4 linked regions of the Homo sapiens genome follow. The protein of the gene in region 1 interacts with the protein of each later gene in a biochemical or structural test. Each region holds a gene or a part of one and is shown in the gene's direction. Other genes may lie near its edges. The genes, in order: RNF14, UBE2E2, UBE2E3 and UBE2E1.

Region 1 (7,251 bases):
CCTGCCTCGGCCTCCCAAAGGGCTGGGATAACAGGCATGAGCCACCACGCCTGGCCTGAAACCTCTAATTTTTTTTAAAAAAAAACAATGTTTCAGAGGCCCACATGATAATAGACTTTTAAGATCTACATGATGAGCAAATACACAATGACAAGAGACCAGCAAGAAGTCAGGGACACTTCTGTACTGGGGTAGGGCTCATTAAGGTTCAGTTTTATCCAAAAGTTGGGCAGGGTTTTCCTCTCCACACTGCTGCCCCTCTGTGTTCAAGGGCTTGTTGCAGGAGTGCTTGCGAGTGGTGGCCATGGAAAAGGAGGCAGTCCCCCCTGGGATGGTGGGATGAGTTCAGCAAAGTTTCGGGACAGCTACCAGATGCCAGTGATGGATGGGAACAAATGCAGGCACCGTCAGGTCTGCTAACCCCTATAGTGACAAGCCATAGTTTGTGACTCACTTCTACTCTCCACTCCGTGGCCTGGGTCCCGACCTCTGGTCTAGGTGGTACACTGTAACCTCTCCTCTCCCTAGGCTCCGTCATCATCCGGTGTCCCTGGGGACAGGGGGTGGGAGTTGGGTCTCTTTCTCTGTCTGTGTTCTCATTCTCACCTATCCTTAAGTCATAAACTCGAATCCTAACTTCCCCAGGGCCTTCCCGTTTAGTTCTTAAGGCCAGAACTATTTTACTCTCTGTGAATTTGTTACAAAAAACCCTTATTCTCTGACAGGCTCCTGGAGAGAGTCAGACTGATGAGGAATCGGCTCTAACCCTGGCTCCACCACTGTGTGATACTGGCCAAACCTTAGTGCCTCCATCATCTTTAGCAAACTAGCACAGGAACAGAAAACCAAATACCACATATTCTCACTTGTAAGTGGAAGCTAAATGATGAGAACACATGGTCACAAAGTGGGGAACAACACACACTGGGGCCTACCTACTACAGGGTAGAGGATGAGAGGATGAGAGGAGGGAGAGGATCAGGAAGAATAAAAAGTACTAGACTTAATATTTCGTCACTGGGTGACGAAATAATCTGTACAACAAACCCCCGTGACACGAGTTTACCTACATAACAAACCTGCACATGTACCCATGAACTTAAAAGTTAAAAAAAAAAAAAAAAAGTGGCCCAGGCGCCGTGGCTCACATCTGTAGTCGCGGCACTTTGGGAAGCCAAAGCGGGTGGATCACTTGAGCCCAGGAGTTCAAGACCAGCCTGGGCAACATGGTGAAACCCCATCCCTACTAAAAATACAAAAATTAGCCAGATGTGGTGGTGTGCACCTGGAATCCCAGCTACTCAGGAGGCTGAGGCACGAGAATCGCTTGAACCCTCTACCGGGAGGCAGAGGTTGCCGTGAGCTGAGATTGTGCCACTGCACTCTAGCCTGGGTGACAGAGTGAGACTCGGTCTCAAAAACAAAACAAAACCCCAAAGTATAATACACCTGACTTCAACTTTATGACATTGCTGTCTTTTATTACATCTTTTTATATTAAAAATAAATAAAAATGTCATAAATAGTAATTGTGTAAATATAAAAGGCCTTATTAAAAAAACAAATCTTAGTGCCTCAGTTTTCTCTTCTGTCAAGTGGGCACATAAAATTACCTAAGTCATAGGGTCCTGGGCATTTAAATGAGAGAATGTACGTGAAATATTTAGCACAGTGGAGGGCTAGGCACACGGGGAGACTGCAGTTTAAAAGACTAACCAGGCACATGAGACCAAAGACACAAAAGTCTGTTATTTTCCTAGAGTCAAAAACAAAACTTATTAGAAGGCTGTCTTTACCCAATCTTGTCCTCAAAATTGACTCTAAATCTTTAGTTCACTTTAAACATTCAGTAAATTATTAACACTGCTTTGAAATTCTCTTTCTATTCTCTCTATCCTGTGACCTCTGACATGATGTCACAATTCACCTTCTGCTCTGACTTTGTGAGGATTTCCCAAGCTGGTTGGTGCATGGGCTTCCTCACTTTTTTCCTCACGAAGAGGTCTCTGGTCTCCCCTCTCTGAGCACTCTGAGGTAGGGTTGCTGTGTGTTTTGCTCTTGGTCTAATTCCTTTGGCTAAACATGAATAATTATATTAATGAATGGCTTTGGAGATTCTTCTTCCGTCCTTTGCATTTTTCCGAGATATGTTTCTGGTTTTGGTATCTATTAGAAGGGTATTTTGGTTTCTGTTTTGTGACAATCAAGATTTATAGTACAGAAAATTAGAAGTGATTATTTCTATTTCAAGGTTCTTTCTGTGGCAGCCAGGTAATCCCTTGGGTGCCCTGATTTACTCACTTGGTTTTTTTCTCTCTCCTGGGTATAAGACCAACTACATAATTTACAAAGCCCAGGGCAAAATAAAAATGCAGCCTCTCATTCAGAAATTATTAAGAACTTCAAGAGGGTGAGAGCACAGCATCAAATCAAGAGCAGGGCACTTCTTTTTTATTTTAATTTTTCCATAAGTTATTGGGGTACAGGTGGTATTTGATTACATGAGTAAGTTCTTTAATGGTGATTTGTGAGATTTTGGTGCACTCATCACTCGAGTAGTATACACTGCACCCTATTTGTAGTCTTTTATCCTTCGTCCCCCTCTCATCCTTCCCCCTAAGTCCCCAAAGTCCATTGTATCATTCTTAAGAGCAGGCCACTTCTAAATCTGGGGCCCTTCTAAGTGCAGGGCCCTATGTGACTGCACGGGTTGCTGGCCCATGAATCTAATCCTGCCCGGGAGGCAATGGTGGTAAAAGCTTTAGAATCCTGTAGGCTTGGGTTAGAGTCTTAGCTCTGCAAGTTACTCTTTTGGAGGAAGAAATATATGAAAAAGCGGACACAGGAGCTTATTAGATTGTGAGGAGCACATTAGTTTGATGGGTCCCAGGAGAAGGAGCCAACATTTCTGTATTCCACTTAAGCGCTGAGAACGGTGCTTTGTACCTAAAAAAATTTTTTAATTAAGACATAATTCACATGCAATAAAATTAACTCTTCAAAAGTATACAATCCAGTGGTTTCTAGTACACTCACAAAGTTATACAACTATCACTGCTCTCTAATTCCACAATATTTTCATCACCCAAGAAACACCATATCTATTAGCGGTATCTATTAGCAGTCACTTCCCATTCCCTCCTGCCTTAGTTTCTGGCAACCACTAAACTACTTTTTGTCTCTATGGATTTGCCTATTCTGGACATTTCATATAAATTAAAAACAATATATGGCTTTTTGTGTTTGACTTTTTTTTTTTTTTTTTTGAGACGGAGTCTCGCTGTTACCTAGGCTGGAGTGCAGTGACTCACTGTAACCTCTGTCTCCTGGGTTCAAATGATTCTCCTGCCTCAGCCTCCCTAGTAGCTGGGACTACAGGTGCCCGCCACCATGCCCGGCTTATTTTTTGTATTTTTAGTAGAGACGGGGTTTCACCATGTTGGTCAGGCTGGTCTCGATCTCCTGACCTCGTGATCCACCCGCCTCGGCTTCCCAAAGTGCTAGGATTACAGGCGTGAGCCACCGCACCCGGCCTTCTAAGGGTTTTATAGTTTTAGTTCTTACATTTAGGTCGTTGATCCATATTTAGTTAATTTTTGCATATGGTGTGAGGAAGGAAGTGTATAATTTTAATTCCTGCTTAGCCTGACGATAATCATGTGACCCTTGGTAAGTTCTTGCACCTAAGTCTCAATTTCCTTATTTGTAAAGTGAGAATAACAAATGGTAGCTAAATCATAAGATTACAGTGAAGATAGAAAATTTACGTAGAGCATTTATCACACTGCTTGAAGCATCCTAACTACTCGATAAATGCGGTCGGTGTTACAGTTATAACATGAGCGATGAATGCGTGCTTCCACAGTGGAGTGCCAGAAAGACCGGCAGCATTTCTGAGAAGGTAAACGGGAGGAAGTAGGCTTGCTTAGTCCACTTGGAGAAGCAGGTCTGGGATTGTTGTGAGAGTCTCTGCCCTAGGTAGACCACTGCCTCATGATCCCCTCTAGAGATTGGTAAAAATTCGAATTCTCGGGCCCCATCAGAACTACTGAAAAGAGCCTCCTGTGAGCACAGGGCTCGCAGTAAGTGGGGGTGACGGTGGTCGCGCCGGCAGCGCCGCCTTGGGCCTGCGGGAGGCGCCCGAGAGGCAGGGGCGACCACGGCGGCTGCGCAGAGTCCTCCCTATGCCGGCGGTCGCGCCAGCGGGATCCGCCTGGCTCAGCTGACAGCTCCCGAGAACGGAAGAGGCGGCGCGCCGGTTGAGCAGGGCGTCTCTAGGCCTGGTCGGCTGGCGGCGGTGAGTGGGCCCCAGGCAAGGGCGGAGGGCGGAACTTTGGGGTTCGGCACTGCCGGGCGGCCGGAAGGTACGGTGGGGATAGCTCTCTGGGCGCGCGAGGCAGAGAAGGGGACCGGGCTGGGACTGTACACTGGGCCTCAGTCCCTCAAATCCGGGACCGGGCGTCCGCAGCTCGGCTGGCCGGGACTCCCTTCGGGACGCTGAGGAGGAAGGGGAAGGTGTGGGCCCTGCTCCTTCGGGACGCCCCAGGCTGGCCAGCAGCTCACACATCCGCATTGCGCCCTCTGATCCCAGCGTTGGGGCGGATAGCTAGCGTTGGGCCTGCCCCTGTTTTGGGGCAGTCGCCCAAACGACGCCGCACGCCTAGTGGCGAGCTGAACCCAGACTAGGACACCCGAAGACCAAATGGATAGAGTGAGAAGGAAATGGGGGTTAGCAACCTGAATTGAGGTACTGGATTCCAAGTGACAGCTTCACAAGCTGAAATCTTGTAGGGTAGGTCATGAGGAACTGTTGAAACTGCTTGGAGTAGAAGTTCTTAGCCCTGGCTGCATATTGGAATCACCTGGAGAACTTGGAAAACTACTGAGGCCTGAATTAATTGTTCTAGGGTGTGGCCTGGGTATTGAGATTTTAAAAAACAGCTCCTCAGAAGATTCTAATGTGCAGTCAGATGGAGAACACTAACCTAAAACCATAAACTGCATGAATGAATCTCTCATCCCATTTGCAAATGTTTTAACAGGAAGAAACAAAAAGCTTAATTCAATTAGCACCATATACTCCCACCTAGTAAAATAAGACAATGTGAAAGGACCTAATACAGTACATAGTAGGTGCTCAATTAATGTAAATTGATTCTGAATCTCATTCTTATCTCATTTGGGAGTTACACATCCGAGAATCTGGTTTTTAATTATGGTTTTGTATATAGTATTTTTGCATATAATTTTAGGGTGTTGATAGGATTCTCCGTAGCCCATCTATAGACCACACTCCCTTTTCCCCTCACCCCAGTGAAGAAGCCTAGCTCTAAAGCATTTAGAATAAAACTTAAAAGTTTGTGTTTGTGTACTCTTGTTTTGTTTAAGTATTTTTCTGTTACCAAAATTAACCTTGAGTGCCACTGGCAGGCTTAATTCATGAACAAGAGAGGAAAAACTGGAGGGGAGTGGCAAATGAAGGAATACAAGAAGCAGAAGAGGAAAGGAGAAAAAAACAAAACAAAAAACAAACTGAAGAGATTGTTTGTTATGGGGCATGGTGTCCTGTACTTTCATATGACCTTGGTGTTCCTCCTTAGCTCCTCCCATAGCTGAGGGCAGACAGATAAAAAGTCCTCAGTCATTGCTGGGGACATGCAAATACTCCTTTAACCACATGGCTCAGTTAGCCTGCCCTAGGAGAGTAACATGCACTTGTAGATTAGGATTGGCTATATGTTAGGATATGTTTGACTTAAGCAGTGATCATGGAAATTCAGAATTTTAATTTGGAGAGGGTCCTAACACCATCTTTTGTATTTCTTTTCTGCAGATGGCAGGATTTTCATAATATATGTAGTATGAGTTCCACATCTTGGCCTCTTACCCAGCTTCAGCAGTCTCAGCTCCACCAGTTAGAGAATAAATGGGATTTGCATGAACTCCACTCTGAGCTGAAATACAGACTGCGGTGTTAATATCCTTTTCTTCTGATTGTTATTAACAGGTACTAACTGACCTCAAGTAGAACATGTAATTGTGTCTTAGATAGGGATGCAGCTTAAGCAGAGCCATGAACTAACATCTCCTAGAAAAAAAGTGTTTTTTGAAAATGAAATCATTTTTAATTTCATAGTATGACCTTTTAAAATGTAAAAAATCCTAACTTTTTACTTATGTACATTTTAATTAAAAATATTTTAGTTGTGAGGGAGGATATTTGCAAATGCAATTGTAGTTCAATATTTTAATTGACTGGTAGTTTTGTTTTATTAAAATGATTTTTGTAAATTCTCATTGCATATTTTTTTCACATTTAAATTATCTGAAATTGCTGTATCTTTCAGTTGATGCTATTTTAAAAAACATTGATTCATACTTTATTTTTTGAGACAAGGTCTTGCTCTGTCCCCCAGGCTGGAGTGCAGTGGTGCAAACACGGCTCACTGCAGCCTCAGCATCCAAGGCTCAAGCGATCCTCCTGCCACAGTCTCCTGAGTAGCTGGGACTACAGGCACACACCACCACACCTGGCTAATTTTTTATAGAGACAGGATCTTGCTATGTTGCCAAGGCTGATCTCAAACTGCTGGCCTCAAGTGATCCTCCTGCCTTGGCCTCCCAAAGTGCTGGGATTACGGGCATGAGCCACCATATCCAGCCAGTTCATACTTTAATTGTAGCTAATTTCTTTTTCTTTCTTTCTTTCTTTCTTTCTTTCTTTCTTTCTTTCTTTCTTTCCTTTCTTTCTTCTTTCTTTCTTTCCTTTTTTTTTTTTTTTTTTTTTTGGAGACAGAGTCTGTCTCTGTCACCCAGGCTGGAATGCAGTGGTGCAATCTCAGCTCACTGCAACCTCTGCCTCCTGGATTCTAGTGATTCTCTAGTCTCGTGCCTCAGCCACCGAGTAGCTGGGATTACATGCGTGTACCACAATGCCCGGCTAATTTTTTTATTTTTAGTAGAGATGGGGTTTTGCTGTGTTGGCCAGGCTAGTCTTGAACTCTTGGCCTCAAGTGATCTGCCTGCCTTGGTCTCCCAAAGTGCTGGGATTAAAGACTTGAGCCACTGTGCCTGGGCCTTGTAGCTAAATTCTTAGTATTACCTAAAATAATGGTAAATCTTTCTTAAAATTATTATCTTTTAAATATTCTTGAGTCATAATGGTGAATCTTTAAATTGGTGACTGCTTGGATTTGACAAAATCTATTATTTCAAAAATTTAATATTATTTTGCTGCTTGCTCAGTTATCT
Region 2 (7,045 bases), on another chromosome or scaffold:
GCAGTTACTGAGAAGTTAGGTGCAATAGTCCATTTCAGGAGTTAGTGGGACTCCTCTCCCTGGAAGACCTACCATGACAGCAACCTCCTTGATACATGGAGAACTTGAGGGGGAACTTCATCATTAGTGAGCAGAGAGCATGGTGTAGTAATCATCTATTGATGCATAACAAATTACCCTTAAAACTTAGTGGCTGAAAATAACAAACATTATCTCCAGATTCCAGAGTGGCTTAGCTGGGTGTTTCTGGCTCAAGGACTTTCAAGAGTTTGCAGTTAAGATGTTGATCAGGGCTTCATTATCTGAAGGCTTAGCTAAGGCTGAAGGATCTGCTTTAAAGCTTACACATGTGGATGTTAGCGGGTCTTATTTTTTAGTCACATGGGCCTCTCCACAGGGCTGCTCACAATATGGCAGCTAGCTTTCCCCAGAGTCAGTGACAGCAAAGAGAGAGAGAGAGCATCAGTGTGTGCGCAACCAAGATGGAAGCCCTAAACTAATCTTGGAAGTGACATACCCTCCTTTCTCACAGCATTACACCAACCCTAGCATGACGTAGGAGGGGATTACACAAGGGTGTGAATACCAAGAGGCAGGGATCAGTGGGACATCTTAGAGACTGATTACCATACTCAGGCAACGTCTAGGGGTGAGAGGAGCAGCCACACTTCTATGTTTGCATCTTAATTTACATGAATGGCACCCCCTGATACTTTGCAGTGTACAAAATACACGATCATACATAGTGGTCCAGGTAGCAGTTCCTGAACAAATGGGGAAGTCAGGGGAATTTGTCCTCAGTACACTTCTATTCCCTGCTAGAATTTCATTTATTTATTTATGAAACAAACATTTTTTTAAAGCACCTGGTCGTACCTTTGCGTTGGTACTGAACTAGGTAGGTAATGGGGTTGCAGTTCTATTGGAGTTTCAATTTTCCTACACCACTGTTGCCCTTAAGTATCCAAAACATTCGGGGTGACTACAGCCTCCTTCAAGCCAGACAGTATGCAACAGATCATTGTTTTCTATCCCATTCTTTGGAAAACCTGAGCTAATATGATGTTTCTTTCAAAGGGTATAATATAAATATGTAATAACCCCTGATAATTGGGTGCCTAACAAGAACAGAAGTTGCCTAAATAAGTAGCAGGGCTCTACCAGTATAATGCTTCTGCTCAAATTCAGCCCAGTTCCCCTGAGAGAGGTCTTTTCTATCACCCATCCAGTCAAACTGGAAAACTAACTGTGGCTCTACTTACTCACGAAGTTGGCAGTAACAACGTTTTAAGAAGGACCCTTCAAAAAACATTCCAATTTGCCAGTTGCAGGGGGAAAAAACGTAGGCTCTAAATTAATGATCAGAAATAAGAAATGTAAGAAAGGAGTGAGTTCATGACGACAGACTGATGGACCAGAGCAGAAAATATAAGGAAGATGAGCTATTTGTCTTGGAGACCAAGTTTGCACCGCAGAAGAGAGAAATAGAGAAAATCAAATAAATATTTATGTCTGTAACACCAGACTCATGGTAAAGTGTCCTTAAGTTCACAGACTCCAGAGCCAAACTGCTGATTTCGAGTCCCAGCTCTGCTCCTCACTAGCTATGTGACTGTAGGTGAGTGACTTAATCCCTCCGTACCTCAGTATTCTCATCTGTACAGTGGGGCTGATTGGATAAAACCAACCTGTGTGGTGGTTGTGACCTAGTATAACTAAAGTGCTTAGCATGCTGCCTAGCACAAATTAAGAACACGGTAAGTACTAATTATTGAAGAAATTAGAAACAATACCTATTGTGTCATCAACTGAAAGAGACCAATTTCTTTCACTCGGTCATTATCTATTGAATATATACAGCACTGAACCCCAGACGACGAAATCCTTTTTCTCAAGGTGCTTTTACGTGGGAGGGCTGGGAGAGGGAGGAAAAAGAAAGCAGAAGGGGGAAACTAATAAATAAGTAAAAAAATGTATTATGTCAGGTGGTGATCATGGAGAAAAAGCAGAGGATGTGGATAGGAAGTTCTGGGGGAGGAGTGGGAGGAAAGAATGTTCTAGAGATAGGAAATAGTAAGTACACAGGTCTTGAGGCTGAGGAATGCTTGGTGTGTCCATAACTGCAAGGCCGGTGTGGCTGGAAGGAGACGAGGATGGAGTGAAATCGTACAGCTTGAGGTCAGGGGAATCCTGGCTGGGAATGGTGGGCACATCATGCAGGCCATGTATCCATATTTTGCACTTTGGCTGTTGCTCTATGATGGGAAGCCACTGGAATTTTTGAGAAGAAGAGAGACATAATCTAATCTTTGTTTTAAAGGACAGTCGGCTGTGTGTAGGTGTTGGGGAGGGAGGAGGCGGAGAGTGGGAGGTAGAAAGATCAGGTAGGAGATAATTATTGAGAGATGATGCCTTAGACCAGGACATTAGCAGTGGGGAGGGGAGTGAGACGGAGTGGACATTTTCACCATATATTTGTGAAAACAGAGTCAACAGAATTTGCTGACGAATGTGATGCTGAGTGTACAACAGAGAAGGTTCAGACATAGGGAAGTTCTGAGGACAAGGATTTTTTTCTTTTATTCAATGTCATATATCTACCACCTAGACAGTGCCTGGTATCAATAAATATTCCTTGAATAAATGAAAAGGGTAACTGATTTGTATTAAACCCATTTTGAACTTAGTAAATAGCAGTTAAAACATCTACAGTCAAATGAAGTACTGTAGCAACCATAATTTCAGCAATTAAGCAGTGAAAGATCTTCCAATCCTTTCCTCCACAAAGATAGAAGTTAATTTTGCTGCATCCCTGGACACCCCGTTGCCAACGACCCAGCATTCCGTTGGTAAGTGAGGCTGGAGGTTGGAGTGGGAGAAATTTCGTGGAAGCTAAGTTCGCAAAGCAGGTACGTTTTTTTTTTTTTTTTAAACGGTTATTTGGGATGAGGAGTACAACGGAACCTAATGTTCCCTCATGCCACCTACAGCACTGCTACTGTTCCCATATCCTTCAACTGGGCATGAAGGCAGCTTCCCACTCACTCTGACAGTGGTGCACCCTGTACCCCCACCCCTCTCTTCAATACCCCAGGGCTAAACGGCCCGAAGCTCCTCTCTACCGGCTGGTGCGCATTCTGGGCCAGGGCGAGCCAAAAGGCAGAAGGGCCTTCGTGCTGCAGTGTCTGGTGAAGACTCAGGCTTAGCCTGGAAGAAGTTTCCAGGCCAACGTGAAGTTTTCCTGTCTTGGGTACATGCGAGCCCCACGCGTCTGCGAGTTTGGGTTAGTGTGTCAACAGGGTCAGTCCCCGTATCTACTTTGCGAAAGCTTCGAGGCGAGCGTGAAGTCAAGGGCTGCGGTGGATGGGGGTAAAAGGCCTCCTCGTCCCACTGCCTGCACCGTCTTGGGGTAACCCCTAACCCCCAGCCGGCGTTTCCCTTTAATGCGCGTGCCCGGCAAGGTCCTCGCGTCCCCTCCCCTCAAGCCACCCCGTCAGCCTCGGTTTCCCCCACTTCTCCCCGTCCTTGTCGTTCCTTCCCCGTGGGACGCCCCTCGCTCACCCCCGTCAGAGCCCAGTCTGCGCGCGGGACCCAGCTGTCACTTTACTTTTCCTCGCCGCCTCCCCACCCCCTCTCCCGACCGGCGGGGCAGCCCGCCCGGGCGCGCTCCCGCCCCCGCCCCCTCGCGGCCGCGCGCCGGAGGAGGAGGGGCGGGGGGAGGAGGGAGGCGCGCGGCGCCGCATGGCCGACGTGGGGCTCGCGCTCTCGCGGTCTCTCCCGGGCGGGCGCGCAGGCACGCGCACTCGCGGGTGCGCGCGCGGACGGCCGGGCGGCGGCGGCTCCCGGAGGTGGTGGCTTCACTTTCCAGGACTCAGGGGCAGCCACAGCGACAGCCGCGGGCAGCAGCCTCAGGAGCCGGAGCTGGAACGGCCGGGGGCGGCGGCAGCGGCGGCGCTGAGGGTGAGTCCGGGCGGGCGCGAGCGCGGCGGGGACAGGCGTGGTCGGGTGCGTGGTGCGTGGGTCCGGCTTTCGGTGACTAGACGGTCCGCAGGGGACATCCCGTCCCTGGGGCCTCCCCAGTCTCCCTCCCCCTCGCGCCTGGGCAGCTCTCTCCCAGGGCTTCGGCTCGAGCCTGCGACCTGCACGGACACCCCCCCCTCAGGTATTCGCTCGGGCCGCGCCGGTGCCTCCCCTCCTCGGGCGTCCTCCCTCTCGCTGACGTCCTCCTCACTCCCCCGACCTCCCCTCCGCGTCGCAGGTCTCTGCTTACACCGCTCGTGCCCTAGTTCCCTCCTTCCTCGCTCCCCGTGCCCGGTTCCCTACGCCCCCTCCCGCGAGCCTCCTGCCCCCGTTTCTCGCCCTTTCTACCCCTCCCCCTTCTTCCCATCCCCCCCTTCTGCCTCTTCTCTCCCTGTCCTCCTTCTACCCCCTTCCGTTCTCAGTTCCCCATCCTTCTCAACCCTCCCAGCGCTTTCCTTCTCCTAGCCGCATCCTGGAACTAAGTCTTTTCAAAAGTACAGGATAAATGTCACGGTGGAAAGTGCCCGGCTTGATCTTTTGCTATTTTCCCTAATTGCATAATTGCTGCACATGGTGTGTCTCCTGGCGAGTGCCGGGTTTGGCTCCTTCGCCGCCGCACCCCGGTGGCCCGCCCGGAGAAGACCTTGTGGGGTATATTTGTGTGTGTCCTGGTGAGGGGTGTGTGTTGTATTGGTCTTTTGTGATGCCTGGCGCTTGTCACAGTTTGGAACCGAAGCCCATTTTTCTCTGGTCTCTTCTCTGCAGCCCCCACTGGCCTGGTTTGAAACTGGATTCCCTCTGTCCTCTCCCCCTTCCCGCCCACCCCACTTCTCCCCCTCTTTTCTCCGATCTCTCTCATAATGTTTTGATCTTTTTGCCCTTTACCATTTCTAATGAAGATAAAGCGTGGCTTCTTGTGGCTTTTTTCCCCCACGACCAACCAGAAATGTCCAATCCATCTTCCCTTAAGGAAATTAAGGCTGCTTTAGAAAGACATCATCCTGTGCTCGGTGGCTGTTAGACCCATTTGCATGTTTTCAAGATTCATCGTTTTGTATTGTGTATTCTTGAGAGTCTACTAAAATATTTTTATTTAAAAGTACGAAAGGAAGTGCTAGGGTTTACCCTCAAAGTATCTCGCGGTTCTAAAGGATTTTACGCTCTTCTTAGTTTTTAATCCCTGATTTCTTTAAAAAGTATGTTTCTAGATATGTGATAATTCAGTCTGGACTTTGTGAATCTAAATATTTGCCTTTACTACGGCAATTTGGATGCTCCTTGGCTCTTTGGAATTCTGTATGTGGGCTGACGCTGAAATAGAGTGTTTTCATATAATGCCATACCCCATTCTCTTTCCCCTGCAGCACCTTTTACCCCCAAATCAGGTGTTCCACTGTTATTTTCTGCATAAATGTCTTTGCAGTTAAATTTAAAGCTGGATATTGCTGTGTGCATATACTATATATTTATTTTACATTTTAGAAAAGTTTAGAAACATGAGTAGGAAGACAGCAAGACATATATGACAGAATTAAACGCTTTCCTGTTATAAAAGCTTAAATGAACACTTGGTTTTGCAGTTTTATACTAGTAGATACTGTTATAAGGCTTACCTGGGTAGTAGGCTGGATTTATGGAATGACTATAGTTGCCTTTATGTAGTCAGTAATATTTCAAGCCAAATCATTTCATTTTTATGGAACATGTGAGTTTCATTCACTGTATGTTGCTAATTTCCAGGACTGTAATTACAACATAGGGTACATAGCTAATACAAGCTTAGACAGTTTGTGTTGAAGAAGTAACAATATGTAAGCCTCTTAATATAGTTTTAGGAAGGACTACTTATTTTATGGTTAAAAATTAAATTTTACTTTGAGTTATGAAGTAAGCGTATTTATCTCTCTCAATATCTTTGAAAGTATCATTGGAGAGTAGCTGTTTGTTTATAACCCTGGGATTTAAGTTTATCTTCCCTGTAGATGAGATAATCGGATCAGATTAGCTATTTAGGAATTAATTTTAAAATGCTAATTTAGAAGATAATGTTTAAAGGATTTTAATTCAGGAATTTTTATTCATTTGTACTTCAGAGAGACAAGACATCAAGTTTACACTTACGACTAATTAAATTGATTCATAGACTACTTTTTCTTCATAAAAATTCGTTGCACCTGAGTGGTACAATAATTTTTTTCTATACTTTTTCTGTAATCAAGCATTCAAAAAACAAACCCAGGAGAAATTCCTTTTATTATTGATATTTGAAAAAGAGATGTGAAAACTTTATTTCTAAAAGTTCCTATAGTGGTTATCAATGGCCTCAGATGGACTTATCATTTGTAGGTTAACATTTGGATGAAATATGTCTTAACTCAAAAGTGGGAATAATTCTTTTCCTTAATGTGAAACCAGAAATTACACCTCTGTTGGGGAATTTCTAATAGTATTTTTATTAGTTCTCTGGTGAGACTAATTTTTATTTTAATCTTCCTCTAATATTCGGCAGTAGAAATTTGAGTTTCAGATTATGGCTCAGATCACATCATTGAGTAATCTTTTTAAGTAATTATATAACTATGGCATTCGATAGTATGTAAATGCACATAAATAAGAATATTGAGAAGAATGTGTGGCTTTATAACTAATGTTATACACAACTGAAACTCTCAGCATAGTTTATTAAATCATAGTTTATTACGCTGAAGCTGCATCCTCAGTATAGAGAATATTATTTCATTGAGGTACCCATATATTTGTCATGGAATGGATTGCTCCTGTTTTAAAATGTATAAAATGATTTCTCACTCATTTCACATTTCTTAAGGTATTGCTGGCAGCATTTTGCTATATCTGAGCACCTTTCCCTGAGGATTGTTCTCTTTTTCACTCTCATGCATGCCGCCCTATCTGATATGCCATTATGTACATACTTACAAGATTTTAAACTTCTGATATATTTTAACTGAAAGAAGGTGAAAAAAAATATTAAATCCAAGAATGAGAATTTAGAGTGAAATAAAAA
Region 3 (7,897 bases), on another chromosome or scaffold:
ACCTTTTCCATATTGGTAACTAGTTATCTCAGTCATTTATTGCATAATACTTCTTTTCTGTATGTTTTAGGTAAAATCTCATCTGTTACATAATTAAATGATCTAATTCTTGGTTACTTTTTTTCAGTGATCTATCTGTCCTTGAGCCAGAGCTTATTGTTTTATTTAATGTGTAGTCTCTTCACGTGACTTTTTTCAGTATTTAAAATTGGTTTCCCTATTTTTTCTTACATCAAATTTAAAGTCCTGACAAATTCTAAAACAGTTTGCTTGAACTTTCATCATTTCTTTTAATTTATGTAAGAACTTATTTTAAAAAACTGTTAAAACAAAACAGCATTTATTTTTGCCAAATCTACACCCCTGCATTTATTCACATCTTTTTTCCCCTCATAAAAGTAGTACCTGCTCATTAAACTAGAAAAACACTGAATATAGTAAAAAGAAAATAAAGTTGTTCATATTCATAGTCACTCTAAAATCTAGGTACTGGTCAACCTTTTGTTTTCAGACATTTTTGTTTTGCTTATTGTAAAAATATGATGCATATTCATTCAACAAATATTTATAGATGATTTACTTTGTGCTCGGTACCTTGAGAGGTATTGAGGCAGGCTCTGATTTCCCAGTAACTAAAATAGACAAACTTCTACCTTAAGTGTATTTTATAATAATCTGTTTTTGTATTTTAGCTTGCTTTTCACAACTGTTATTTTAATAATGGCAAATTTAATTATGTGGGTGAATCAGTATGTGTAATCATTTGCATATTGTTGGACATTTCCAGTTTTTCAGTATCATTTTTCTCACTTTTAGAATGTTTCCTTGAAGTACATTTCTTTTGAAATGGAGAAATCTGGTCAAAGGGTATGGCCACATTTAAGGCTCCTGAAAAAAATTTCCAAATTCCTTTTCGAAACATGTACCAATTTTCATTCCTACTAGAAATGGACAAAGGGATTTTTTAAAAAACAATTTGCCAGGAATTATTATAATAACTAAAAATTGTTTTTGTTATTTTGATAGATATTTCATTTCAACTTTCCTTTCTGGATAACTAGCAAGACTACATTTTTGTTATAATGTTAAATATTTCTTTAAAAATTTTTGCCTTTTGACATACTAAGGTGCTCACGGTTTTGTTTCATGTGTACAGGCTCCTTACCATGACATGAGCCTTTTTTGGTATATACCTTCCCTGAGAGTTATCTCAAAAGAGAAATACAGAAAATAATCACTGAGTTATCTGACGTCAAACCAAGGCTTATGCACCTTTCCAACTCCAGGGCCCAGCCCTTGGTGTAGGACACAGCAGGTTTTCCCCTCAGGATGCAGTGGAAGTGCACCCAGATGTCAAGCGGCACATTGGATTCTGGGGGTCCAAAGACACTGGGACTAACAATGACAAACAAGGCTGTGTAAACTAAGGCTGAGCCAAGAAATACCTTCCTAGTAAACCAATCCAGTCTTTATGGGTAGAGAAAGAAAATTTCTTAGCCAGAGAACTGAGGATACAAGTAACTGGAAAGCATCAGAAACAGCCAGTAAAAATGAAGGGACTCTTAGAAAAGTTATTGACTGGAAGGAAACAAAGTACCTTAAAATCAACAAAATAAATTCATATTTATTCTACATTTTTTACATGTGAGGGATGCTGCTGGTCATGGTGGATAAGTAGAGGTCTATACCCCAGCTTACATAATCATTCAATTCAGAAACTTCTTAGGTAACTCAGTGATAGATCCTGTGAAATTCTTAGTTATACATACTCACAGTTATGTACACAGATAACACTGAGACTCATTGAAAGGCGCAGGAAAAAGCATCTCCCAAACTAGGGAGGTGCAAAGGATTCTGGGGTCTGCCTTATTTGCCCTTAGGCAGGCCTCTTTTTGTCACAACATTTGGTGGATAAGGGGATAAGAGATAATCATTGTAATACTGCAATTGGATTCGGCATCTTCCCTCTTACCACTGCCCTTCTCAGGGTTGTGAGAGGCTGGCAGGACCCCACACCAACAAGAGAAAATAAAAGAGACTGAGAGGAAACAATCTTCTTTGTGGTAGCTGGTGTCTGCTTGTGGAACTATTCTGAGGGACCTTATGGGAAAAGGGCCCTTTTTATATTTTATGAAATAATTGCATTAGGTCAAATTTGTATGCTTCCAAGAGTGCCTGTGAAACATGATCCTTAATTTCAAGGATTGACATAGCAAAAACAAGAGAGAAAAAATAATTACAAAACAGGTTGTCACACAAGGAAGAACTAAACATTAGAAACAATTTACACCTTACAAGTTACTTCTGGTGGAGGTGATGCCAAGTCACCTGGGAGAGGAGCTGTGAGCTGAAATCATTTGAGCAACCCCTTGAGTCAGCTGAATGAAGGCAGCCAGGCACCTCACATTGTAGGGGCAGGGCACTACTGCCCCTAACCTTATGGAGCCATTCATTATCTTTACGGTGACTTTAACAATAGGTATTATTTGTTGAACACCCAAATTCCAGGTATTTTGCCAAGAGCATTATCTATATTATCTACATTATCACTGGCCCTAGTGCTCTCTCCAGGACCAATCTAATGTTTCCTTCTTTGACCTTTACCTCATGCCCCACAATTCCAACCTGAATTAATAGTTCCATTATTAGTTAATTGATGATTAGTAATGCTCTTTTCTCATTCTCTTTACTTCTTTAATACAGCACTTCTCATTCTGCAGGCTACGTTTCTGGCTGCCCCACTGCACAATTGAGCTTGGTTAAGAGCATGACCCATGTTTCACTCCAGTTTCCCAAGCAGTTAGTAGATCCTAAATATTCTGTTGGGTGAATGTTAAGTTAAACTCCATGACTTCAAGTTCGCCAAAGAATCACGGAATCATGGAATTTTTGAGCAGGAGAGGACTTAGAACCTTTGATACAATCTCCTTTTACATAAAAGTAATTGAAATAACTTAACTTGCCTGAGGTCATATGAACTTCGTAGAATGAGGATTAGAATACACTTCCCTGGCTTTTCAACCCAATACTATTTCTTCTGTAGAAGATGTTACCAAACAACTAAATATCTTTCTCCCCTAAGCTCCTTACCCCACTAAATCCTATCAGCAATTGGCCTTTGGGCCTTCAGGCTATTTCTGTTCTTAAATTTCCTAAAAGAACCCATGTTTAACGTACAGCTTTCCTTTTCTGTCTCCCCATTCCAAACAAAGCAAAGCTTCAACTCCAAATTGGCTGGCTTTTGCTGTAACATCACATCGTGTAAAGCTGGGGGAAAATTCTGCTTTTATTTTCACTAACAAGCTTTTCCCACAAGCACTCTTTGACCCAGCCAAATCAAAATGCTTGTCCACACACAGACCATGATCTTTTTTGAGGCATGAGATATTCTATCTGTTCATTCTGAGTGGAATATCCTTACTACTTATGAACCTAGCGAACTTTAATGAACTGTTCCCCTTCTGGACTAGGAGCTCTTAGCACAGAGTAGAGACCTGGCTTTAGTCACACAGCAATTGAATGAGTGTATGTCCAGCACCTAGCAACATATAGCCCTCAATAAAGTTAACTGAATGACTGTGTCTTTGGAAAATTATGGAAATGTAACTTACTCTTTAGAGTTGCTATCAAGCCTTTACCAAAAGTTTTCTATTAGGAGAAATAGTAAGCAAATACGTTGGCTCACTCAGTCTTTTCTTCTTTCCCTTAACTCTATACATCTTTTGACTGCCATTCTCACTCCCTTTGTGAACTGCACATTCTCACAGCACCCCTGCCCCTGGACACTTGTGGGAGAGGAATCCACAAATTCCTTTGAGGCTCCATCACCGGAACAAGTTCTCAGTAGCTGGAGAAGGCCTGGGTGGCAAACAGGAAGTTTTTGTATTCTGGCTACTTTGTGCCGTGGGGTAAAAACCGCAGAGTCCACCTGGAGACTGCAAAAAGAATGGTAGAACAAACAAAACTGTCACTATCTCCACCTAAAGCTTTTCTGGGTGGACATTCTGACTCAACATCACTCAGAACTTTTCTTTCCAGAACTGGCTCCTCATGTGCAAGACAGAAGAGTCCCGCAGAAAAGTGTCATGTTTTAGCTCTCATCGCCACCCCCCAACCCCAAACTCTTCTCCTTCACTTTTAAGAATGTTGAGCGGGACATTTTAAACACTGTTTTGGATTTTTAAGGTTTCAAATAATCCGAAGGACACTTCCCTTTGGCAGCGACAGTTGCAAGCTATGAGCCAAAAAGAAATAGAGGTTGTTCCCCTAATCTCCAAATACATTCTACCCTCTTCAATTCCCAGGACCCCAACTTGTCCCTTCCTCCAGCTTACGCGAGGGGCAAGTGGCAGCTCTTCTCCGCCTGCGTGCCTGGCCTCGTCAACAACACCCATTAGTCTCCCGTCTCCCGGGGCGGCGGGGGACTCCCAACCACGCGCCCAGGGCCCTTGCCCAGGTACTGGGGCCCCGGGAGCCACGACGGCCCCCGCGCAGGCGGATGGGATGGAACCAGCCCTGGGGACGCGGGTAGCCCAATGGGCAGCCTCGCCCCGGAGGCGGGCCCAGGCCGGAAGCCACCCCGCGGCACAGCGGCCCCGCGATACGGTGCCCGCGCCCCCGCCTTCTCTGGCACAGGCTCCGCGGCCAAGGGCGGCAGGGGCCAGCCCGCCGGGTCCCCGCCGCGCTCTTTGTCCTGGCCGCGCGCGGGCGGACGCGTGCACCCCCAGGGTGAGGGGAGGTGTGGAGAGCGCGCACGGGAGCGCGCGGGAACAGCTCGCGCCCGCCGGGCGTCGGCGGCGCGCGCCCCTCCGCCAGGCAAGCAGCGAGCACGCGCGTCGCCGCCGCGCCCGCCCCTCCCCCCCGCGCTCGCCTCGGAACTTGCTGACTGCGCGGCCGGGAGGAGCCGAGCCGGGCGGCGGCGGCGGGAGGCTACAGCGCGCGGGGGTCTCCCGCGTCCCCTCCGCCTCGCCGGGAGCTCGCGCCCTCGCCCAGCCGAGCTCCCACCCCCGCTTTTTTCCGAAGGCGCTGGGCGGCGCCACCCTCCGGCCGGAGCCCGGCACTGCACAACCCCCTCCGACTTTCAATGTTCCACACTCCCCGGCCAGAGCCTCCTCGGCTTCTTTTTTTCCCTCCCCCCCCTTCCCCCCCCCACAGCTGCCTCCATTTCCTTAAGGAAGGGTTTTTTTCTCTCTCCCTCCCCCACACCGTAGCGGCGCGCGAGCGGGCCGGGCGGGCGGCCGAGGTAAGGCGGCGGGGCCGGGGGGCCGCGTGGGGGGCGGCCGGGGCGGCGGCGGCGGTGGGGGAGGGGGCGGGGGCGGGCAGCTTTGTTCGCGCCGGGCGCCCGCGTCGCCGGTGTCCGCGAGCCGCGGCGGGGCCGGCTGGGCTGCTCGCATCACTTGGCGCCCGGCGCGGCGAGCGCTACCCGCGGCCCCCGCGCGGCCCTCCCCACAAAGGGCCGCGGAGCTGCGTGGCCGCCGCCGCCGGCCGTGGCTCGCCTCCGCGGGCGCGGAAATTTGTTGCACTTCTTGGGGCTTTGTTTATTTGTTTGTTTTTTCTCTGGGTTTCTTATTTTTTTCGTTATTTTGGACAAAATGTCGGTCCGTGATATAAAAATTGAGCGAGGAACCTTGGTGGCATTGGGAGCTTTGCAGAAGGTGCAGTTTGAATTCTGCTTTTCCCAGGGTGGCAGCTCGGTCTTGGCCGGATGAATCTTCGCTGCTGGCCGTGGAAACAGCTAGAGCAGCTCGTTAGTTGATTTTTAAATTTCCAAGTGTTGTGTTTAAAGGCTTTACGTGCACTGAGGAGGAATCGCCACCTTAAATAAGCATATGGGCGATTAACAGGGTGTGTTTTCCTCTCGGAAAGGGAATTTGGTAGCTTTGACCAATGTCAGTGTGTAAATATTTAGACGTTATTAGTGACTTTTAAACATTTTTCAGCGAGATCTGTTATTTACAGTGTGTCATATGTTATTAATGCTTGTTGCCTAAGTTCCTTGGCAAATCTGTTTCATGCCTTCTGAGAAAGTAGACAATTGATAGATTGTCCAAGAGACGGAAAAAAATGTGAGTGGGTTTTCTAACTTGAGTTCGGCAAATCCCTTAACGCTGGCGTTGTGTGACACATCACCTCCCTTGTACGTACCCCTGTTGTACGATGAAATAAGTGTGAACACTTTTGAAGCTTTTTCATTACAAGACGATTTTAGATGACTAGAAGAAAATGCTGTTGGTTTATTTCCTAGATTTAACATTTTCTCCTCCTCCTCCCCTGTTCTCTTTAAAAGTTTTCCAAGAGATAACTTCACCAAGATGTCCAGTGATAGGCAAAGGTCCGATGATGAGAGCCCCAGCACCAGCAGTGGCAGTTCAGATGCGGACCAGCGAGACCCAGCCGCTCCAGAGCCTGAAGAACAAGAGGAAAGAAAACCTTCTGCCACCCAGCAGAAGAAAAACACCAAACTCTCTAGCAAAACCACTGCTAAGTTATCCACTAGTGCTAAAAGGTAATGTGTAAAAGAAGGATCCAGCACACTTTGTCAGGTTGTCTTCCAGGTGGTTGGACGCTTTTGTTGGTTTTACCTCAATAGCAGTAGTTCAGAAATATTTACTTCATTATCAGTTTAATTGTACTTGAATGAGTTGTCATTCTTTAGGTGGTATGTAAGCAACATTACTAGAATTATACTTTTAAGCAAACTTAATTCTGTACTTCGGTAACTTCAGTTAAGAGTGTCCTTGAGTAGAGATTAGACTAACATTCTGACAGATTGTTTAAGGAGTTGGCAAGGAAAATTTGGTGAACCCAAATTAGATGGTACTTTGGGGATGTTCCTTTTATGAGTCATAATCTTCTTTAATGAAATTGACACTTCCAGAGATTAGCAGTGCCTCTCTTCATGAAACTTAATGATCAGAAATGATCATATTTGCTAGAAAATTTGCAAATTCAGGCCTTTGCTATATTTGAAAGCAGATTTAAAATTGTGCTGCAAATCTGCTTACAGTTTTACAAAACATGACTTTCAATCGTATATCACAGGTAACTTTCCTGGTTAAATTATGATTATCCCTTCCTGTGCTTGTGAGGGCAAATCAAACTGAAAAGTAGCCCTTTACAATTTGAGGTGTCACTAGTGATAGAAAACTTGCATTGTCCTTGGGCCTCTTCACTCTGAAACTTGTGGATGTGCTTGACAAGTTAATACTCAACAGCAGGAGAAACATATTTAATTGGATGTAAGTGAAAGATCATTTGTTTCCTATTGATTGATGTTTTCTGATGGAGAAAAAAAGATTCTGTCAATGAGACTCTTATCAGTGGTAGTAGTAGTGGAATATCCACAAACTCTAGTAATTATACATAAAATGTATAATGTTTACAGCATTAACCAATTTTGACATTTTGTTAATTTTTATTGATAACTAAAGGAAAAAGAATATAAAAACTGATCAAATATTGCATTCTGTGGTGATTCATAAATACTCATATTTTTCTATGGATTTTCACCCTTATTGTCTCAGTAATGAAGTATTAATAACTTGATAATATTTTTGAATGGCAGCAGTCTTTGACATAATTTAAAATTCTCAATTTGGTATAGTGTTGATGCGGAACATATTAGACACATCTAAAGTTTTGAAATCATCTTAAATTTGAATCAAATCAGAGAACTGCTTTTCTCCCCCTTAACTCAGGCCTATGTATTTTCTCCTCTTTCTCTCAATGTTTATTAAATTTAAGTGCTGTACCTAAAATCAGGGAAAACAGAAATGGTTAAATTAGAATGTCAAGTAGTCTTTGAAAGTTTTTCACAAGTAAAGATATTTGTAAATTTTAAACTTTTTTTTTGACAGATAAAATATTGTCAGAACTGTTAATGTGCTCTTGCAGTAGC
Region 4 (6,212 bases), on another chromosome or scaffold:
ACTCTGGGAGGCTGAGGTAGGAGGATTGCTTGAGCCCAGGAGTTCAAGACCAGCCTGGGCAACATAGAGAGACCCCCATCTACACAAATTAAATAGAAAACATTAGCCAGGTATGGTGGTGCATGCCTGTAGTCTCGGCTACTCAGGTGGCTAAGGTGGGAGGATCACTTGAGCCTAGAAGTCAAGGCTACAGTGACCCGAGATCATGCCACTCACTGCATTCCAGCCTGGGTAGCAGATCAAGACTCTGTTTCAAAAATAAAAAATAAAACAAGTTTTTAATAGTTTTTGGTAATACCCATCACAAAGAGATATTAAAGAATTAATAATAATGGTGATCACTGCCGTTTAATGAGAGATACCCATGGGTGTGTTGCTCTACAGTTTCCTTCTTTCTCTCACTTAATTCTGAAAACATTCCTGTGAGGTGGACAGTGTCCGAGCTCTTTCTGCCTCTTGGCCAGTTTGGGCCCTGTTCTTCCCATTACCCGCTATTCGGTTGCCCATATTTTCTCCCTCCTTTTTTGCCATGTCATGTTTTCTTCCCCAACTTGTATTCTCCTCTGCTTTTCCTTTGTAATAAGCTCATTCCCCTAACCTGTTGCATCTCTCACACCAAATTTCAGACCAAAAGAAAAACCTGTGATGGGTTTGGGGAAAGTATAGGCCCATGGGTAGGCTTTTTATTCCCTCCCTCTTCATCTCTTCTGTCTCTTAAATGAAGGCATCAGACTTTGTAACCAGTTAGCAGAGGGCATCTTGAAGGAGTTTGTCTTGTTCAGCATCAAAACCCCTGACATTTAACCCTCTGCCTAGTACATGGGCATTCAGTAAGTGAGTGAATAAATCCAATTCACATCGTACATTTATTTAAAAGAGTAGTTTTGCTGGGTGCGGTGGCACTCTAGAAGCCAACACAATGCTTTAGAATGGTATTGTGGCCAAATTATGGTGTACCCAAGTGTATGTAACAGTGATTTATGATAACAGCTAACAGGGTTGGAGGAATGTCTCAAGTATTAGTATTTAGAGAACCCAATTATAGAATACACATTGAAATGAAAATTGAATAACCTGTAACTGGATACTTACCATTCTCCTCCCACCTAACATGGACATACTTTTTACATTATAAACCATCTATTAGATTCTTTTAAAGGTGAGATTATGGAGATAGAAGAGCAAGGAAGAGCCAGTTAGTGGGTCAGAAAATGAAACTTCTGTGCTTAAAATGGTCATAAGTGATGTAGCTGTGAGCAAAAACTGCTCGCATTTGTCACTAATTTCGCTTCTAGGTGCTGAGATGTGTTTCCCATTTTAAGTATTGTTTACACTTTCCTACGTGTCCAGGAGAGTTTTGAGAATTGAGGAAAGTTTCCTGCTTATTCGTAGCTAGGTAGGCTTAGAATGGTTTTAACATTCTTTTATCATCCAGTTTGCTTGACCAATGGCTATGGGTTTGTTGCAGTTCTGCATCCGTTTCTGTACTTGTTTTGTAAAGAGAATCCACACAGTAAACAAAAGAGAGGAGAGAGGTAATCTTTCCATCTCTTTTAATACACTGTAAAAATTGGGATAGTGCCACCATCTGCTTATTTGTTGACGTATTATTCACAGTGCTGGTCCCAAAGGCGATAACATCTATGAATGGAGATCAACCATTCTAGGGCCTCCAGGATCCGTGTATGAGGGTGGTGTATTCTTTCTCGATATCACTTTTACACCAGAATATCCCTTCAAGCCTCCAAAGGTAAGAAATCTCCCTGTATGCTCAAATTTACTAATTCCCACAAGAGAGCAACTGTTGAGGTTTTTCTAAATTTAATTTTTAATCACAGAAACTAGATTTATCTTATGTCCTAATAGATCTGAGTATTTTAACATATACAAAACACTTCTTTAGGTTGATTTTGCCTTATCTGGCAGAGACCATTCTAGGATTAAGTGCTTTGTTTTGATGGTGCTTAAAATTGTGCTATTTATAGTAATATTGTCAGCAACCTAGAATTAATCCCCTGTTTTCCAGCCCATAGAGAAATGTTTTTGAACCTTTCTCGAGGTTAAAAATGGTGTCAAGCCAGGTGCAGTGGTGTGCACCTGTAGTCCAGCTACTTGGGAGGATTGTTTGAGCCCAAGAGTTTGAGTCCAGTCTGGGCAACAAAGCAAGACCCCAAAAAAAGGCAGGGCAGGTCAGGGGGCCAAACAACTAGAGAATCAGAATCTCTTCCCAAAGCTTTGGATTCTGTTGTGCTCCCTGTCATGTTTTGGTCTTGTTCCTTTACCTCCAGGCCTCAGTTTTCTTTCTAGGACAGGTGAGGATTGCCCAAGTCACCCATCTCCTGTACTCAATCTATGATTCTCATTCAGTCAGAAAGAAAACCCCGTCTTGGGGATTAGGTAGACTGCCAGATAAAAGTACAACTGCAGCAACAAGAAGTAATCGAAAGTCACTTTTTTAAAAAATTGGTAAAATTACAGGTAATTTTTACTTTGTGTTTTGGTATATTTCACAAATAAAAATTAAGAGACCCAAATAACACCAGCTTATGTGACTTGTGTTCTGCTGTGGTCCTTGCCCATTACTGGCTCTGCATCCATGGACACTCGATTATATAATAGTAAATTCTGTGATGTAGGTAGACAGGATGTCTATAGGACCTGATGTAACGGTCAGAAAAAAGCAGAAATAGACTTCTCTTCAAATTTTGTTCAGCCTTTTGGGTGTAGTCATTGTTTGCTAAGTATGTTGTTTAATTATCTTTATGTACCCATTATGTTGCACTTCAGTTTTTAAGAGGTATTTATGATTCTCAGTATTTTAAAGCTTACTTTGAGGCAGTGTAGTACTACCAGCTAACACAAGAGGTCAGCAAACAATTAGCTATTCAAACTTGGAAATGTTAATATTTAAAAGATTTAAAATTGCTAAAGATGAAATTAGGAAGTACTGAACTTACCGTCAGTGGACATAACATTTTAAATGAAATTGACACAGTCCCTGAGATGGTATCAATGAACACTTTCTAATCAAATTTATTGTCTATCTTCTTGACAGCTTTAATTAAAACTGCTTTTAGTCACCTTCTTAAGGGTCATTCAGTTGAATATTTAGTAACAAGTTTGTTTGCTGTTTAAATATTGTCTGTCACTTGTTTTTTTTAGGTTACATTTCGGACAAGAATCTATCATTGTAATATTAACAGTCAAGGTGTTATTTGCTTGGACATATTGAAAGATAATTGGAGTCCAGCACTAACCATTTCTAAAGTCCTCCTTTCTATCTGCTCACTTCTTACAGACTGTAATCCTGGTAAGGTTCATAATTCTTTACCTTGTTTTATTCTTCCTTACCTGAAAAATACTTGTTTCCAAAAGCTTTCAAAGGACAAAACTAATTTTTCTGCACAAGTTTGTGAATACAAAAACTAATCGGCTTTTCAAAAGAAAGTTTTAATCAAGTTCAGTCTACTAGTTGAGACACACAACTTCATTAATCAGTATATTCTAGCAACAAGGTATTTTAAACTGAAGACTGACGTAAGTTTGCCTTGGGCTTTTAGTTTCAATTATTCTTCCTCCTTTTTTTTTCCTGTTGCTTAATTTCCCATAGAGTTCTTATAAAACAAATCAGACACTTCTAAATGTCGAGTCATCTGCCTGGCAAGCCTCACCTGTGCCTCTGGGGTTCAGTGAGCATGTGTCCCATAGCTGGTCACTGAGATGGCACTCAATTTTGAAAATGGTAGTTGTTAAATACTTAGTGACTATTGAATTGTGACTTTTTTGGGACTTCATTTCATTTAAAAAATATTTTTCTGTAGTCACAGCTACTAGGGTGGCTGAGGTGTCAGGATTGTTTGAACCCAGAAGGTCAAAGCTGCAGTGAGCCATGAGCATGTCACTGCACTGCATTCCAGCCTGGGTGGCAAAGCGAGACCCTGTCTCAAAAAATATATATATATACACATATGTATATATATACACACACACAGACAAATATATTTTCTAGGTAAACCAAATATAAATTTATTAAAGATCCTAAGATTCAGAGAAATACTATACTTAATTGGAGGTCCAGGTTTTGCCTGGCAACCTGGCTCTTTAACCAGCGTAAAGGTTAATAGTGTTGCACTGCAACAGCCCCGAAGACTTCACAGTATTCACAATGCCGTTAACTGGTGACATTGAGCTAAGGGTCACATGAACACAGCTGGATGTTCATTGCAGTCTGAAGCCTTGACCGTTCCAGTCTCTACTGAACTCAGCCTAACACATAAGAGTAAAGAAACTCCAATTGAGTGTTGTTTGTTGGGAGAAAAATGGAATGAACTAAGATAAAGACAGACCAGTACACTAAAGCCTAAGCATTCCCTCTTCCCCCAACGTTATGTTTTTTTGAAATTTTGATGGAAAAATATCCAGCATGGTGGAGTGGTGTTTCGAAGATGGGTTTGATCACACATACTTTGTCGTACGTATCTACCCAAGCTGTCACTATTCGCTAAAGTTTAAAATGTTCTTTTCCTTTCTCCAAAGTAATCTACATTCTTTTCTTCCAGCCGACCCCTTGGTGGGAAGTATTGCCACTCAGTATATGACCAACAGAGCAGAACATGACAGAATGGCCAGACAGTGGACCAAGAGATACGCTACATAAATTGGGGTTTCACAATTCTTACATTATTTGTCTGTCACAGAAGAGAGCTGCTTATGATTTTGAAGGGGTCAGGGAGGGTGGGAGTTGGTAAAGAGTAGGGTATTTCTATAACAGATATTATTCAGTCTTATTTCCTAAGATTTTGTTGTAACTTAAGGTATCTTGCTACAGTAGACAGAATTGGTAATAGCAACTTTTAAAATTGTCATTAGTTCTGCAATATTAGCTGAAATGTAGTACAGAAAAGAATGTACATTTAGACATTTGGGTTCAGTTGCTTGTAGTCTGTAAATTTAAAACAGCTTAATTTGGTACAGGTTACACATATGGCCATTTATGTAAAGTCCCTCTAAGACTACATACTTTTTGTTTAAAACAAAATTGGAATTTGTTTTCCCTTCTTGGAAGGGAACATTGATATTTAACAGAGTTTTTAGAGATTGTCATCTCATATATATAAAATGGACACGTGGCTATAAAACACCATATAAGAGATGAGTAGTGCGTTTTATTTTATATGCCAATCTACTTTGTTTAAAAAAGGTCTGAATCAGGACTTGTGAAAACCTGTAGTGAAATACCTTAAGCTGTTAACTAACTGTAAGGCGTGGAATAGGAGTTGCTCAGTGGATTGGTTCTATGTTGTGGACTACTTAAGTCTGCATTTGTTACTGTGCTAATAAACAATATTAAAAACCACCTAATAAACACTGCTGTGTTCATTTACTTTTCTTTTGCCTTTTGGTTGCCATTCGCAGATTCTTCTGAAATCGATAGGTATCTGCTTCTAAAACAAGCTAAAAATAATGCATATTTAGTAGGTATTAGTTAGTTACCTATATTAGGATCTGTACTTTACACAGCTGTAGATGAGGTATCCTAGAAAAGGTTAAATAATCTACCCCATTTAGGCTTCAAAGACGAACCCTACTGCATCTTTTTAAAAGCATTTTCTGACTTGCAGATGCTGTAGTAGCAAGTACATGAGAAATGGGTTCCGTCATGGATAAATTGGTACCCTGCCTTAGGGGGCATTTTGGCAGTACATGTCCTGACCCAGCAGTTCTGTTTCTGTATGTCTCTTTCAGAGAAACTTATCTGGATACACATACATTCATTACAGAATTTAAAAAGAATTGGTAACTGTTTGTACTAATATAGACTAAGTTGCATTAGTAGGAAACAAAGCAAACTGGAAGGTACTTATTTAAAAATCATTATGAAAGCATTTGTCCATCTATGTAACATGCATGGGTGGGAAGCTAGATTAATATTCAATAACCGGGGGAAAAGGGTAAGGGGGTGAGTTAGTGTCTGGTAATTTTTTTTTACCAAAAAATGAATTTATGATGAGAAATTTTGAAGAATTATACTGTAGCAGCAATAGCTGATTTGTAAGTATCGTCTTTTATATGTAGTAGTTCTTCACTAGAGCTCATGAAAAAAGTATTCCATTTAAGATGTTACAAATTACTTGATGTTTTAATATGTTCTTTGTTGAATAGCTTATTTTACATTTCAGTCAAAATAGTTATTTCACAGGTGAAACCACTAA

Evidence for each region.
Region 2: the proteins of RNF14 (region 1) and UBE2E2 form a complex in vitro, tested with the Homo sapiens proteins (2 studies listed by BioGRID).
Region 3: the proteins of RNF14 (region 1) and UBE2E3 form a complex in vitro, tested with the Homo sapiens proteins (2 studies listed by BioGRID).
Region 4: the proteins of RNF14 (region 1) and UBE2E1 form a complex in vitro, tested with the Homo sapiens proteins (3 studies listed by BioGRID, with this or other methods).

Annotation. Positions count from the first base shown.
Region 1 is NC_000005.10:141,964,871-141,972,121, forward strand, and holds the start of RNF14 (E3 ubiquitin-protein ligase RNF14), read left to right. Parts: upstream 1-4,234; 5' UTR 4,235-4,297; exon of another isoform or gene 4,298-4,910; intron 4,911-5,833; 5' UTR 5,834-6,007; intron 6,008-7,251. UniProt on the Homo sapiens protein: E3 ubiquitin-protein ligase that plays a key role in the RNF14-RNF25 translation quality control pathway, a pathway that takes place when a ribosome has stalled during translation, and which promotes ubiquitination and degradation of translation factors on stalled ribosomes.
Region 2 is NC_000003.12:23,199,303-23,206,347, forward strand, and holds the start of UBE2E2 (ubiquitin-conjugating enzyme E2 E2), read left to right. Parts: upstream 1-4,024; 5' UTR 4,025-4,162; intron 4,163-7,045.
Region 3 is NC_000002.12:180,975,732-180,983,628, forward strand, and holds the start of UBE2E3 (ubiquitin-conjugating enzyme E2 E3), read left to right. Parts: upstream 1-4,873; 5' UTR 4,874-5,242; exon of another isoform or gene 5,243-5,281; intron 5,282-5,326; exon of another isoform or gene 5,327-5,746; intron 5,747-6,286; 5' UTR 6,287-6,311; coding exon 6,312-6,505; intron 6,506-7,897. UniProt on the Homo sapiens protein: Accepts ubiquitin from the E1 complex and catalyzes its covalent attachment to other proteins. In vitro catalyzes 'Lys-11'- and 'Lys-48'-, as well as 'Lys-63'-linked polyubiquitination.
Region 4 is NC_000003.12:23,885,950-23,892,161, forward strand, and holds the end of UBE2E1 (ubiquitin-conjugating enzyme E2 E1), read left to right. Parts: intron 1-1,617; coding exon 1,618-1,750; intron 1,751-3,162; coding exon 3,163-3,310; coding exon of another isoform or gene 3,311-3,429; exon of another isoform or gene 3,430-4,559; coding exon 4,560-4,657; 3' UTR 4,658-5,691; downstream 5,692-6,212. UniProt on the Homo sapiens protein: Accepts ubiquitin from the E1 complex and catalyzes its covalent attachment to other proteins. Catalyzes the covalent attachment of ISG15 to other proteins. Mediates the selective degradation of short-lived and abnormal proteins.